Linked DNA regions of Homo sapiens: region 2 is linked to region 1. The links come from fine-mapping of genetic effects on gene expression. Tissue or cell type: left ventricle. Region 1 holds a variant in brackets; the other region holds the start of a gene. All regions are shown on one strand. Distances are between the middles of the regions.

Region 1 (8,188 bases):
TGAACAATAGGTGCTAGATTTCTCAATAAATAATTTCAAGGAGCCTGGCGCCAGGGAGTGAGGCGCTCAGCAAACCATTTGGTGGCAAGGCAGTGTGAGTTTGCCCAGGTGCTGCATTCATGATAAACAGTTTGCTGTTTGATCATATAGCCTCCAGCGGAATGCTGAGTTGGTCACATCCCAAGGGCCTTCGGCTCCCTGCAGCCAGCACTTTGGGAGGCCTAGGCGGGTGGATCACAAGGTCAGGAGTTCGAGACCAGCTTGGCCAATATGGTGAAACCCCGTCTCTACCGAAAAATACAAAATTAGCCAGGCGTAGTGGTGCACTCCTGTAGTCCCAGCTACTCAGGAGGCTGAGGAATGAAAATCGCTTGAACCAGGGAGGCAGAGGTTATGGTGAGATCGCACCACTGCACTCAGCCTGGGTGACATCGTGAGACTCTTGTCTCCAAAAAAAAAAAAAAAAAAAAAAAAAAAACCGAAAAACAAAAAAAAGTCGATGAGAGGGGGCCTGGGAATCCTAAAAGTCTCCAAGTGCCAGTCTTTCCTGATGTTATTGCAGTTTTTGGAAATGGCGTTAAGACCGGCAACTAACTTGAATGCTAATTGCTCTACAAAACTAAAAGAAAGGTTGTGGAATGGCATTCTAGTGACCAGTGTAGCTTGGCACCTGAAGAAGTACTTGGAAGAAACACTAACAACTGGTGTGAATTCCATTTTTTCATGCACTCATATATTGATTTGATACACTTTGATGGAATAAAATAAGCAACTCGTGTCAGTATTATGTTAGCATTGGAGGTAATTTACTCAGCACCTATTACCTAATAGTGTCATTGAAAGTTGAGGAAGCAATGATGAGCACAGTAGAAACTGTCCCTGCCCTAATAGTGATTAGTGTGTCTATGTGAATGCAGGTAACAAAATAGTAAATAATAAAGTGCAGCAGTGCTTTGATGGAAAAAAGCTGGGATGTCTACTAGAGTCCAAAGGGCACAGCCAAAGCTTCCCAGATATTTGGCATTTGAACTGAGGTCTAAAGAAAGAGGAAAAATTAGCTGGAAGGAGACAATAAATTGCAGTTAGAGGGCTCCTTATGTGCAAAGGTCCAAGGTGAAAGAGAAACTAGAGTGTTCCAGGTATCCAGAAAATATTAGTATGGTGGCATTGTGGAGAGAGAGGCAGGAGTTCAGAGAGATGAAACTTGACAGGCAAGCAGAAGTGGGATATGAACAGTTTTGGACTTTATCCACTGAAATGTGATAAGGAGAGGGGACCAAAATAGAATTTGCATTGTAGAAAAACGACTTTGACTTCAGTTTGAGGAATGGCTTGAATAGGTACAAGACAGGGAGAGAGAGAATGGCAGATGCAATGATGCCAGGACAGCAGAGTGGAAAAACTGGAAGCAAGGATACCAGTTAGGAAAATAGGAATCCGGAGGAATGGGGAGAAATGGATGGATTCAAGACACATTTGGAAAGTATAATCAATAGGTCTCTTGGGGAGTTGTGGTGAGGAGGTAAGGGTGAGGACAGGGTGGAAATGACTTCCAGGTCTCTGGCTTTGGTCCTTGGGTGAATAAATGGTAGTTTCTGAGATAGGAAATGTGGGAAGAGGGACAGGTTTGCAGGAGGAGGAGAAAAATTCGGATTTAGGTATGCTGGGTTTGTATGCCTTGGATACATCCATGAAGAGATGTTCATCAGATTGTTGGCTGCACAGGTGTGGAGTTCAGGAAAAGGGTCCACAGTTGGGGAGACATTAATGTGGAGATCCTTGCTGAAACAATGAGAGTGGGTGCAATTGTTACTGAAACACCAGGGATTCAGCCTAGGTTCTTTTGCTGGCTGCACATAAAGCCAATCACTGAGACAACAAGTTTTGCCAAGGCTTTAATTGGGAGCTGCAGCAAAGGAGGTAGGAGATCAGTCTCAAATCCATCTCCCTGACCCGTTGAAATTAGGGGTATGGATAGAAGGAAAGAAATATAACTAGGTGTTGGAAAATGGACTCTGGAGGGGTAAGGAAGCAATCATGATAAATGAGGGGCCTGGTGTCTCATTGTCTGGATGTGATGGTCTGATGAGTTTCAGTTCTTTTATACCTTTTGAGAGGCCTGGGGGTCCTTTTCCTGGGGAAGGAACTCAGATAAAACAAATATAAGTTTCAGCTTTAAGATCAGGAGGGTCAATTTCCATGTTTATTCGAAAGAATTGTATATGGGACTATTGTGTTGGTTTCAGTCCCCCTCTTTCTATTTATCAATTCCTGGATCATGGGGAATCTGATCCTCAATCTTTCTGGCAGCTTCATGCTGAGGAATGGCGTGGTGGGCAGTTCCATACTATGGGTGACCACGTGGCCATCCAGGAATCAAAAGTTAATCTAATACTATAGTTTTCTTCTGAGACACAATCTGTATCATTACTGTTCCCCGCTTCCACCAAAGACATATCACAGCTGGATGGGCCTACCTGCAAAATAAGCCTCAGTTACATATACTTGGCTTATTTACCCACACAAAGTGCAGCAAAAATTATTGTCCATATGGGCTCTCCTAATTGGCTTTGCTGGAACCTCTCACAAGGCCATTTCAGTCAAAGCCCTGGGAAAATAACTTGTTCCTCCAACTGTGTCCCCTTATAAAAGAAAACAGATTTTTATTAAATGTATGCAAGAAAACACATTGCCATGAACTAAGAATATTCACAAATAGTTTATAAATTCTGGAGAAATTAGGGAGAGAGAAAATGCCTCAAATTCTGTTTAAAAGGGTATACTCTACTTAATATACTGTATTCTTAAAGGTTATGAAGAGCTTAAAAGAAAAAATTCTCCAGATTCCAAAAAACAAAAATTCTCCAGACTTTTTCAAACAAAACCATAAAAAATTATTTCAGTCCCACATTAGTTCAGTCCATGCAATCAACTCCTGCTGTGTTTCATATTGGGTTAGTAATCTTTATAAACATGTCAGCCTTTTAATTAAGAGGGACTCTAATTAAGAGTCCTAGAAGTTTTCTGTATTCCAGTGGCACAGTCTCCAAAGTTATCAGAAATCTGCATTCAAGACTCCTTTTCATGAAGTCCCCTAAATAAACAAGCTCTGGACTATATCTGATTATAAGTCACTTTTTGAAAAGAATCAATGCAAAACAACAATTGCAATGACAAAAGTCTTAGGAGAGCCATAAAGACACAGTTGACAAGGAAATTTTTTTTTCTGTTGGCATACAACAATTTAACATAATAATCATCATTACTGACACCATATATTAAGACATATCAGAATTTTAGGAATCTCATATAGTCCTGCAACACATATTAATAGCACATCTATACAAATATAACCCAAAGGAAGTTAAATACCACCTCACATTTGATAATGCTGCCTGTATAATTCTAATATACCAAAGAAGCCTAACATGTCTGTCTGTATTGGAATTCAAGGAAGCTAATACACAAAAAAGTTAGTTTGAGGTTAAAAAAAACCCCCTGAATTTAGAACTTGAAATATTTGCTGTTGGGAAGTCTGTCAGTATCAAAGATTTAAGACACTTGATATCACAAAATAGGATCACAGGTCGCTACAAAATAGTTATTCATTTAGCCAAAAAGATAAAACAAACACATTTACCCTTTGATAGGCGACTCAGTTTCCCAACAATAAGGCCTAATAAAGACAGCATGAGGCCAACTAAATGTCTCTCCCTCTTCCTTTTCTTCCCCCCACAGTTCACTCAAAAGGTAAACAAATATTTTATGTCAATATTATACAAA[C/T]ATTTTATTCAAAAGAGAACATCAAATTTTACCTTTGTATGGTATATTTTTAATGTTAAAGCTAATTTTAATAAAACCTTATAAGCCGAATTTTAATCAGTTTGACTATAAGATAGGATTTCTGTGAAGTTTTTTTTTTTTTTTTTTTTTTTGAGATGGTGTCTGGCTCTGTTGCCCAGGCTACAGTGGTGCGATCTTGGCTCACTGCAACCTCTGCCTCCTGGGTTCAAGCAATTCTCCTGCCTCAACCTCCCTAGTAGCTGGGATTACAGGCCATGCCACCACACTTGGCTAATTTTTGTATTTTTAGTAGAGACGGGGTTTCACCATGTTGGCCAGGCTGGTCTCCAACTCGTGGCCTCAGCTGATCCGCCTGCCTCGGCCTCCCAAAGTGCTGGGATTACAGGCGTGAGCCACCACACCCGGCCTGAGTCACCAGCCCCGGCCTGAGCCACCACGCCCAGCCTGAGCCACCACACCCAGCCATCTTTTTATAACGTTTTACGATTTCCTATTAAAGAGTAGAGTAATGCTCCAAGAAAACCCTGTTATGACACAGGGGCCCAGACATTGGCCTTGCATCAGTGTGCTTTTGATGTTAATGTTTAATTTATAGAAAAACCCTGAACTAATTTTATAACTCAAAATCAGCCCTTACAAGCTCACGTGCTCACCTTTTGTGCAATAGTTCCTGGGCGTAGAGGGATTGAATGGTTTTAATTTCTAGCCCTATGTCTCATGAAAGCAGTTCATTTTGATTGTCACCTTCTCCTGAGTCTGAAGACGAGGCTTCATTTGGTGTCAGTGCTCAAGATTTAGCAGGTATTGGTGTCTTTTTTGGATCCAGGAGTCAAAGGCCTTTGAATTACTAAATAATTGTTTCCTAAGAATTATTTAATAGCATATTTATACTGCAGGAAACCTCATCATTCTCTCTAATATGTCACAAAATAAAACCCTGGGATTTGGTGCCTAGTAGTTACTGTCTGAAACACTTCAACCCATTATACAATCCATTGTATTAAAGTGGTTAGGTTACTCCTTGCATTTATCTGCTAGCATTCTAGTGACAAAACTGTGACCTAGAGCCTCAAAAATGTGGTAAGTCCTGTGCCAAACTTACCAAAGTAAGATAGTTAACTTTTCTTTCCATCATTAAAAAAAAAAATGGTAAATGCAAGTATCAGTTTTGGAAATTCAATATGAAGATAAATCTTTCATTTAAAAAGTATACAACAAAACAAGGACAAAGTGACAATAAGCACACAGTAATTTCTTTTCAGCTATTTTGAAAGAGCCTCATCATACATTTCCAAGATTGGTTTCTAGATAAAGTACTGACAACTGATTTAAGTGACTTACACCACTAGAATCTTCAAACTGGCATAACACTTGTATGTACATATTTTGTTTTCAAGTATACATGTGAAGGCCCATCAGTGATAAATGGCTTAGGATAAAAAAAACACTAGAAAGTCTTATAATTTTTTTTATGACTTAATCCAAGTAAATGTTATTTAATCTTAATAATAGTAAACACAACTAAATTAGTTTGAGAGAAAGCCCAATCAATATAATTTCCTTAAAGACAAAGCCAATTTTTTTCTGAATATTAAGACTTTGTACCCATATAGCAGTTTTGCCTCATTAAAGGAAAAGATCTGAAACCGCTATTGTTTATTGAATTGAATTACCTTGGAAATAAACACCACTTAAACATTTCTCTCACCTACTTTTCCAAATAACCAATAATAATGTACTATTTCTGTTCAGAACTTAGAAGAATAAACCTTTTATTATTTTTTGCCAGGAATCTTAAAGTTCTTATAGCTCTCTAGTTCATTAGAGGTAAGCAAAACCAAACAAATTTTAAAGGCTGGTGTCCACCAACAATTTTTGGAAGCTTGAAAAAGGTAGCTTAGGAACTTTGGATAAGTAGAGCAAATGATGAGATACTGGAAATGCATAGGAAACAAAATGATTATTCATGGAACCAAATAAAAGCCTTCCTTACATTAGAAACTAAAAGCCATCAATGGTTTTATTAATATGTATATATAAGTAAAACCTAAAGAAGAAGAAACAGCAAATAAATGCAAATTAAAAGAAAAAACAAACAGGAAACCAACCTGAAAATTTTCTACTCAGTTTAACTTGGAGGCTATAGTGTTACCCAGAGCCAAAAAAACACATGATGAATATTTTGTTCCTGATGCACAATTTAATGTCTTTAAGTTCACCAATACCACTATATATTTTGTGCAATTAAGAAATTCACTTTAGGCTGGGCGTGGTGGCTCAGGCCTGTAATCTCAGCACTTTGGGAGGCCAAGATGGGTGAATCACTTGAGGCCAGGAGTTTGAGACCAGCCTGGCCAACATGGTAAAACCCCATCTCTACTAAAAATACAAAAATTGGCCAGGCATGATGGCACACAACTATAATCCCAGCTACTCTGGAGGAGGCCGACCAGTAAGTATTATACTGTAATGATAGTATATCTATGCAGAAGAGCAAATACAGTGTGAAGCAATGCAAGCATGTAGGTGAAATTTGGTTGTTGCTATATCTGGCTTTTATCTGGCTTCATGGTTAACTATATTAAGAAAGGATTGCCAAACTGCCAATGTGTTTCTTTACAATATTTCTTATTTTACTTTCATCAAGACTAAGAGCTTTAACTATGAGCAGTGTTAATTAGCCAGATTTCTCCAATATTCTATCTGGTTTTAAGAGAATATTATTTAAGCCTTTTATACTTTGTATTTTCTCTGTCTGTACATAAAGGTAGACACACAAAGAAATAGGAAAGAAACTACATGACTTACACACACCATCTATGATATGCTTAGACTTTCTGATTTGTCCTGGATTTTCGTTCTTTTTCTTCTTCTTTTTTTTTTTTTAAACAGTCATTTTACTTTAGGACAAAAAAAATACCATTATAAGATGCTTTGTCATACAAAATTATTTTCTTTATAACCTTCCTTACCAAAAATACATCTTTATACTCATAACTTTCTCCACATCTCTCTCGTCTACTTGTTCTTTTCTACCTTGTTTCATAAGTAACCTTTCAAGTCCATAATTATTAATAAACTTTAGATAACTTCTGAGTTAGATAAAATTTTTTTCTGAATAAAAACACATTGTCTTTTGCACATTTTATATATAGAATTACATATGAACTAGAATTCTTATCCTTAGTAACAACCTTAAATTTCAGTAAAAACCTAGGAAGCAAGAAATCTTGAGCTGCCTAGCAGATATTAGTATTTTATAGATGAGAACCATTCCACAATTTTTAGAAACATGTTCCCCACATCATAACCTTTTCTTAATTGGAAATGACTCAAACATCCAATGATTATATTTCCGATTATGCCAAAAGTTCATTTACAGCATTTGACCATTTACATTTTATTTATTTTTAGCAGTTTATCTAGATTATTTCTGCATCATTTCCTTCTTAACCATTTTATAACCTGTGAATGTCAGGTGTTCACCTAAATAACCTTAAAATTAATACGTGGGCATTTTGATCAATAACTCAGAAGATTCAGCTGTTTTCATTAAACTAACAGCATTAAATTAGTCTTATAAAGAATTCACACAAATATTCACTGGGTTTATAGCTTTATAACCTGCTGCCAAACTCTGATACCTCAAATTATCTAGCTGAGACAAATATAAAGCCGAGACAAAAATGTATGCTGACAATTCTGAAGACATTTCTATTTTTATTTTACCAATAATTTTAAAGACAGCTTGTTTATTAAAGATTTACTGAAGTCATGTGAACTTGAAAAACACTTTGGACTTAATTTATGAGCACTCTTATTTATAAGCCAATTTGGTAGGTATAGTGTATAACATAGTTAATGTACATCTAGATAAACACATCTAAACATGTATACACACACAAAGATCCAACAGCTTTTACCTTGGAACTCTAGCCATGAGATAGCAATACAAACTCACGAATCTACAACCAAGTCCACATGGCTAAAATTTGTTTGCTCCAATCGGTAATCCAATGAAGGCTGTGAACCAGAATTTTGGGTAAAGCAGTTTCCATGGCAGTTTGATTTTTAGAAGCTAGATTCCAAAGAAACCTGGGGCCAAACAGCACTACAGAAGAACGTCATGTGGAAACTACTCACCAGGCCCAACCCTGCTTAAAACAGCGGCATAAAAGCCAGAATACATGGGACTCCACCTGGCTTTCCCATTCAACAGCCAACTCCAGATTCCAAAGAATATTGGGGCAAACGTAGTACAAAAGAATATTTGTTTGTTGAATTCTAATTTCCCATTACTATATTGACACATACAATCAACAAAACACAATCCGACTGCTGAAGCAATAGACAAGCCCGAACAGTGTCCAAACTGAAACAGTCG
Region 2 (8,188 bases), 140 kb after region 1:
CCTACTATGGAGTCTTCCATGATTGATTCCAAATCCTCTACAGTTACTACTGCCCGCTACGTCCATCTTGGAGACTCAAGTTTCTGGTATTCACGCATAAAGTCCTGAAGAATCTCCTTTTCCATAAAACTCTCTCTTTGAAACATGGTTCTTGTTCTGATAGTCTAGGTCAGGAGTCTGCAAACTATGGCTGGCCCTTGTTTTTGTAAATCAAGTTTGACTGGAACACAGCCATGCTTGTTTGTTTGCATGTTGTCTATTGCCGCTTTCGTGCTTCAACACCAGAGCTGAGTAGCTGCAATAGAAACTGTATAACCATAACCCAAAAAGCCTAAAATATTTCACTACCTGTCCCTTTACACAAAAAGTTTGCTGATCTATATTTTAGAATATGATGAAAACAGATTTTTTTCCTTATCAAAAATTTTAGAGGACTTGAATCATACACCCTATATCTAGGATCTTTGTCTAGGCTAAAGAGTCTGTTTTCTACTAAAAAAACAAACCAAAAGCACCTTGGCTCAGACAATAGCAGTGTCAGCTGGCAAAGGTTTAACAACTTGAACTCCAAGAGGAAAAAAAAGCTCTGATGTAGCATTTGCCAATTTCCATGGTGTTATTATTCCCACCATGGCTTATTTCAATCTAAAAAATGTGTTGCCACTGAACACGGAGTTAGGAAGAGATATGCACAAATGCTAGTATAAACCAGCTCTGAAACCACTGGCTCCTTGGGACACTTACTATCAATGGCCTAACTCCTCATTTTAAAGTCAAAGACACTGAGACCCAGAGAAAGTGTCTTAACCCGAGGCTGGCCCAGTGACTGGCACCAGGTTGGAGGTAATTTCCCTGTGAATCTGGCTGCCTCACAGGAAATTACTTCCTATGTAGAAGGAAGAGTGGGGGAAAGAAGGCAAAGGAAGTTCTTTGCCAGGCACGTGGTGATACACGTTGGTTTTTATCATCATCTTCACAGTGTGGGACTGGTTTCTTCAGCACATGCCTTTGAAGCACACTTTAGGTAGGGGGTACTGCTCTTCACACAGGACCAGCTTTCATGTACACACTCTGACTATATAATAGACTATCTCAATTAACCAGCAGTTATCAAAGCTATCAGACCATAATTGCCAGAAAGACAGGGACTGCATCTTTTGTGCTCACTACTTTCCTGGCATCCCGCACATAACTGGACACATGAGAAATAGGTGGCCAATAAAAATCTACTGAAAGAATGAAGGAATGAGACCCCACCATCAAAGTGGAATTTTTTAATACAAAGAACACAGCAGGTGCTCAGAGTTTAGATCCCATTTCCTTCTCCTGTGGACTTCTCCTCCTCCTCACCTGTGGACTGTGCAACACACACAACACGCTCATGTGCATGCAACATTTCTCAAGTATCGGCTGTAGCATTTAAACTGATCCATCAGAGCACAAGAGGCTCTATGGATGAAGGAACAAAAGGGAGGATGGAGTTAGAAAATTTCTTCCTCCCAAATATATACACATAACATCTGTCTTGAACTTGTTCTGACAAGGCACGAAGCTAAGGAAAGAGTCCCGTGAAGGACCTCACCTACCACACTCCAGGATGGTGGAAACTGCTTTTTGACAGGGGCTGAGGAAGCACCACTCAGAGTGACACCCTCTGAAAGTGGAAAGTGAAAGAACGTCAAGACTGGAAATCATTATTCCAATAAACTCAAGGCTAATAACCATGCAACTGCAAACAGAAATGAACACGTGCAAGGGAAGGCAAAAGCATGCCTCCTTGTTCTTTTGGAAATAACTTCCTGACTACTTGGTAACTCTCACAGGAACCCCTACACACTTGGCATGGTCTCCCCACTGGCACTTTTGTGAGCCTACAGGTCCTGTTTGCCACATCACTGTTGTAATCCTGATGCACAGACAGGTCAGCTCTGCAAGCACAGAGACAACCAAAGGCATGTGCGAAGCCTTGCTGACTTTTCAGGAGGCTGGCAAGGTTCATCACAGCCTCACGTGGGGACCTAGTACATGGTTTCCAAAGTGAGATCAAACTTGGTTCCAGATACCAGAGGTTAATACTGTCCATGGCATGAGGTGGTGTGTGTTCCCAATCAGAGGAAGGATCACAAACAAGAAGCAGGCCCAATGAATGAAGCCTCTGAAGCATTTCCTACACCAGCATCCTCAAAGTGTGGTGCAGAGAACTCCTAGGGATCTCCAAAGTCAAAACCATTTTCCTAGTAATAAAATGTTACTTGCTTTTTTTCATTCACACATTTTCAGGAGTATACAGTGGAGGTCTCAAGAGGCTACATGATATGTGATATTGCAACAGACTGCAGAAGCAGCTATCAGAATCCAGCTGTCTTCAATTACGCTTGACATCAAAGAGATTTGCAAAAATGTAAAACAATGCCACTCTTCTCAATCATTTTCTGTTTTGGGAAATATAGTTCTTTTTCATAAAAATAGGCAATGTTAAGATATAATTAGTTCACTATTCTTTTTAAATGAATTATTATAGTACAAATTTCTCAGTCTTACTTACATATTATAAATATGGATAGATATAACACACATAAAAGCTCCTTAAGATACTAATTTTTAAGAGTGTAAAGGAGTACTGAGTACCAGAAAAGTTTGGGGACTTCTGTCCTAGAGGTTGTCCCCCAGGGAAGAGAGTTACATGTGTTGCAAGAAGGAAGATGCCATTATGATGTGCTAGCTGAATCTAGAAAAAAATGACTTGGTCATAACTGCAGCCCAAGCTCCTTTCTAGATCTCTGAATCTATCATGGTGGGCTCTGTGTTCAAGCCTCCCACGAAGGGTCTCTTCCCCCTCATCCCATTTTCCCTTTACCCCTTGGAGTGGATTCCCGGATCTGCCCGCACAACTTTAGCAAGGGTTTCCCTATCCAGCCAGCCGGGCCTGGGCGAGGACTCCCAGTGCGGGCCTCACACCCTCGGGGTTAGGACTCCCAGGACTGGCCGCACACCCTAGGCAAGGACTTTCAGGACAGCACGCACAGCCAAGGCTAAGAAGGGTCTAGGAAAGCCACTTCCAATCCCTGGTTTCTCTCCCCGGCATGACATAGACTGGGGACAGGGTGGAGACGTCAGTCGCCAGAAACACGTCCCCGATTCTCCTCTCAGCCTCCCCAAGCTCGCCTCCGTGTCCCCCGTGCCGCCACTGCCTCGGGCACCTCGGTAAAGGCCCGCACCGACTCTCGAGGGATACAGGGTGGACGGCGCTCCCGCCTGGGGACGTGGGTCGGGCCGCGTCGGTACTCACCTCCGACTGCACGGCGGGGCTCCCGCGACCGGCGAACCTGACCCAAGCAGCGGGACGCGTTCCCGTGCGCTGCGCGGTTCCAGCTGCCGCCTCCACGCTCCGCCCCCTCTCGCCCCCGGGGCCGCCGCGCGATGGGCGGAGCAGGGGCGGGAAGGGCGGAGCAGGGGCGGGACGGACGGGCAGCTAGCCGAAGAAGGGGCGGAGCCTGCGGGCGCCCCCGCGGGCCTGGAGGACTTCGCCCCGGGCTGGAGGCTAGGGTTGCGAAGGGCTCCTCCGCTGGAAGTGGGAGGGCTGATCCCTCGGCCCGGGTCCGCTTCTGCCAGCATGGGACCTGGGACGAGGGTGTCTGTTGCTCACTTTGGAGCTTAGCATGTGACTCCCCAGCCGGCGTTAGGAAGTGACCAAAGGGTGGGGAAGAAATGGAATTATTTTTAAAAAATGATTTGGCCATAACTGGAGAGGCTTCATGTACGTGTGGTCACTTGGCCCGCCTCCCTTCTCACTTTGTCCGTCCCCACCCTACCCACCCTCTCCACCCTCGCCTTAATTCTTTGCGCAAAGCCTGCCAAGTGGACATCGGAGTCACGCTGTCAGAATAGGACTTCAGCATTTCCGTGGCAAAAGTTCTATATGTAGATTTCCTTGGACATGTAACAACACTTTCTAATGCACGATGTTCACCGGTCTGAAGTCGGAGAAATGGCTGGGAGATGGCAGCAAGTGGGCTTTCACAAGATCTGCTTTTCATGTTGGTAGGAGTTGTGCCCTCTTGGGTGAATGGCGTTCAAAGAAGTGATTAGATCTTTCTAGATGAAAGGTGGTGAGGTTTTCCTGCCCAAATTATTTGGAAAGTTACTGTAGTTTTCTGAATAAGCAGCTTATAGGATGAGTAAACAATAGCCAGTACTAATAGCCCCCCTGCTACTTTATACTGCCCTCCTATTCTGCACAAAGCCCTGTGATCGACTCTTTCCACGTTATTCAGTTCAGCTCTTCCAACCACCTTACAAGTAAAGAATATTACCCGTCTTTGCAGGTGTGCAATGCGCAACAGCTGAGACTCAGTCCTTAGGTTGGTTTGACACCAAAGCCTACACCTTCCCTGTCATACTGCACTATAGGGTACAACTATCGTCTAGTTATATTTAACTTTGAAATATAAATACTTATATTTATTTTGAAAGGGGAAGTAACTGTATTTCCAATATGAGAGGAGACTGTTTTCCCACCCACTTCCTAAATCCTTTCCATTCACATTAGTAATTAAATTTTCTTTGAATGTCCACCATATGGCAGAGGTGCACCACAATCCCTGAAAAATCATGCTCCAGTCCCCTTGGGAGGTAGGGAGAGTAGGGGCAAGGTGAGAGTGAGTAGAAGGCTGGGGAAGTCCGATGAGGACACATCCAGCTAAATTGCGATTCTTAATGAGGCAGCCATTCGGAAAGCAAAGTATCTAATGTTCAATGATAACATCCGTGTAACTGAGAATCCTTCGCAGAAAACAATCAAATCAGAGCTATGAAGGGAATTGAGATTTATTAGTAAGCACGCTGGTCAAAACCGTGAAGGAAATAGTTCCACATCCCCCCAGTCTGTTGCTCTTGGACGTTGTCACCAGTGACGTGCAGATCGTGAATCCCAGGGCCTGTCCTCTGTTCCTGTCCTTACTCACTACTCTGTGGTATTTGACACTGGCGATTCGTTTTCCTAGAAATGTTAACCTCCTTTTGGCTTTTCAGCCCTCCGCTCTTAGGAGTCACCTCTTCCCTCTTTTGTCCCTCTTTTTTAAGGTCTTTCCCTACACTCTCTCCTCTTGCTTTATATGTTTCTCCATTTGCTGAGTTTTTCTTCATCTATTTTCTCAGTATGCAGACTGCCTGCCACTTCTAGCTGAAGCCTGCTATGTCTCTGTCATTGGTCTTAGTTAACTTTCTGACCTTCACACTCTTGATTTGCAGCCATATGTGGCAACCCCACCTGGATATTCCAAAGGTGTCTGTATTAGACCGTTCTCACGCTGCTGTAAAGAACCCTGAGACTGGGTAATTCATAGGGAAGGAGGTTTAATTGGCTCACAGTTCTGCATGCTGGGGAGGCTTCAGGAAGCTTACAATTATGGCAGAAGGGGAAGCAGGTATGTCTTACCTGGCAGCAGGCAAGAGAGTGTCCTCTGAATGCACAGTGGTCCTCCTGAATGCTTTGAGGGGACCTTAGAATCCCTAAATTTTTCACTGAATATATGTCTTCATACCAGAGAAAATTTGAAATAAACGTTTTGTTCCTCTTTAAGAAAAAAAGAGTTAAATTCATAACAAGGAGAGGCAGGTCTTAGCCTCATCTTGGCTCCCGGTAAATATCCAACGGCTCTCCCCTGATGCCCTCTTCCCACCACACCTGCTATACGTTTAATTTTCGTGCTCTCTTAATTACTGCCTAAGGGCCTGATCCCTGAGCTGCCTTCCCAGGGAACAAGAATCCTCTGGGCAGCTGCTTACAGTTTCTCTCAGTATAGCTAATAATAAAAATCATCCCCATGATCCAATCACCTCCTTCCCTCCACAGGTGGGGATTACAAACCATATCAGTGCCTGTCATTCATCACATCTAAAATGGGAATTTAGTGTCTTCTCTAACCATCTGTCTCTCCCCTCCTATCCATTTAGTTTCTTTTTCATCCTAATCCTGCATCCCGAATTTGTATTTCATGATCTGCTGAGAAAGCTAAATGTTTAAGGGGTATATTGCCATGGCATATTACTACGCTCTCACAGGGTCCACCTAACAAATATTTCTGTCACGATATAAAAGGTTCTGCTAATGGCCCAGCTGAGGGCATATACTCTAGGGACCTTCAGAGAGGATGCCACCCAAGCATGTAACTGCTCAGGCACCCCAGCTGTGCTCTGGTGGGGGGCAGAGGCAGAAGGACCTTCATTTGAAGTAACAGTATTGTTTTAGCAGCCTTACCTGCTAGAAGGCTCTGCTGCTATAAGAAGAACCATGAAGATTCTGCCAGAGACCTGTTGAGCTCTGAGGAATGCCTCATCATATTCCACACCGATTTCAGTTACTTGTATATGCTGGACTTCCTCAGTTTATTGAAAGGTCCTAGGAACTATACCCAACTAACTTTGTATCATGCTTTACAATTTATACTGCATTTTCACATACATGTCATTTAATAGGAAGGGAGAGGTGTAAGAGAAAAAGTCAAGCATAACGCTTCTCAAACCTTGGGGTACATTGAAAACATGCGTGCCTGTGTTGTGCTCTTAGGAGGCTGAGTTTGATGTGGGTGGTCAAAAGACCATGCTTTGAGAAACACCAATGGTAGTTCTCCGAATCTGGGTGTTTCTCAGATTTACCATAGGGCACTGATAAAAATATAGCCTCCTGTATCCTCTGCCTCCTAGAATGTCTGATTCATTAGGTCAGGGTGGGGGTCTGTGTTCAGATTCTGAATACGCTACATTTTTACCACAGGTGATTCTGCTGTAGCATGTCCCCAGATTGGCACCAAAGACCTGTTACCTAGAAATATACACTCCATGAGGGCAGGGGCCCATGTCAGTTTGTTCATCATCCCTAACATGGAGTCTGGTGCATAGTAGGTGCTCAATACAAGTTTGTTGACTGACTTACTGTCAGTGTCTTTCTATTGCTTACCCTTTGCTCTCTGTTGGCCTTTGCGCTGTTCAGAGTCCTCTAGAGTGGCACGGAGGGAAGACATCTGTTTGGCAATGAATGAAGTATAAAATGGTCCTCCTGAATGCTTTGAGGGGACTTTAGAATCCCTAAATTTTTCACTGAATATATGTCTTCATACTAGAGAAAATTTGAAATAAATGTTTTGTTCCTCTTAAAATCAAAGTTATATTCATAACAAGGAGAGGCAGGTCTTAGCCTCATCTTGGTTCCCGGTAAATAGCCAACTGCTCTCCCCTGATGCCCTCTTCTCACCACACCTGCTATACGCTTAATTTGCATGCTCTCTTAATTACTGCCTAAGGGCCTGATCCCTGAACTGCCTTCCCAGGGAACAAGAATCCTCTGGGCAGCTGCTTACAGTTAAGCACCATTCCTCTCAATATAGCTAATAATAAAAATCTTCACAACCGCCTGTTGATGCTGGTAACATTGTTATTGCCATAGTTTCACAGATGAGGAAACTGAGATTCAGAGTAGTTACACAGAATGCTTCAGTCATGAAACTTAAAGGGTGATCCTGGGGTTTTAGAGAAGGCTGGCCTCACTCCATAGCTTGTGCTTTTAAGCATTATGCAACAAAATCATCAGATACCCTGAAGCTGTAAATTATTTGTTCTTTGCAGAAGAGGGACTTAAATGTTCTAGAGAAAAGATTTGTTCTATCACCATATAGGCTGGAATTCCTTATTCACGTATTTCCAGGGCTTGTTCTCCCTGATGATAGCACAGAGATCCCTGCTGCAGCCATGTAATGTAGGGACACCTGGGTAAAGAGAGTCCTCATTCTGGGGGATGGAGGTGTTGGAAATCAGGGGCAGCTTGAGTATGAATTCCAGGATTGGTACATAATTCCTAGGTGTCTAGTACCATCTTTCACATGTGTTAATTTGCTGGATACTTTTTGAGTACTTTGTGTTATATATTTTTCAGAAGGGAGAGGGAAGTACTCTGCAGGATTGGTCCTTTAAATTATTTAGGTATACACAAAATAAAACATTTTTTTCAAGAAAATAATTTGGTAATGTTGACAAATGAGAGTAAAAATAAAAATTTGTCACTAATTTGACTCATTTCTAATTCCAGTTTATGATGAGATTACTTCCACATGTCAGTTTAAGTGCTTTTTAAATTTTCTTCTTGAGACAGGATTTTTCTCTGTTGCCCAGGCTGGAGTGCAGTGGCAGGATC

The links. PIP is the estimated chance that this variant, and not a neighbour inherited with it, causes the effect.
Region 2: it holds the start of ACO1, and the variant in region 1 is fine-mapped to the expression of ACO1 in left ventricle (GTEx, PIP above 0.99).

The regions. Positions count from the first base shown.
Region 1 is chr9:32,516,887-32,525,074 of GRCh38, reverse strand. All of the region lies in intron 1 of RIGI (RNA sensor RIG-I), which reads left to right. Among named protein-coding and RNA genes, the nearest start is that of RIGI, 5.2 kb to the left of the region's middle. The variant C/T (reference allele first, on the strand shown) is at 3,784.
Region 2 is chr9:32,379,837-32,388,024 of GRCh38, reverse strand. ACO1 (aconitase 1) reads right to left here and starts at 3,382. Exons shown (of 21, transcript NM_002197.3): 1 at 3,290-3,382. RefSeq lists a silencer at 3,202-3,581.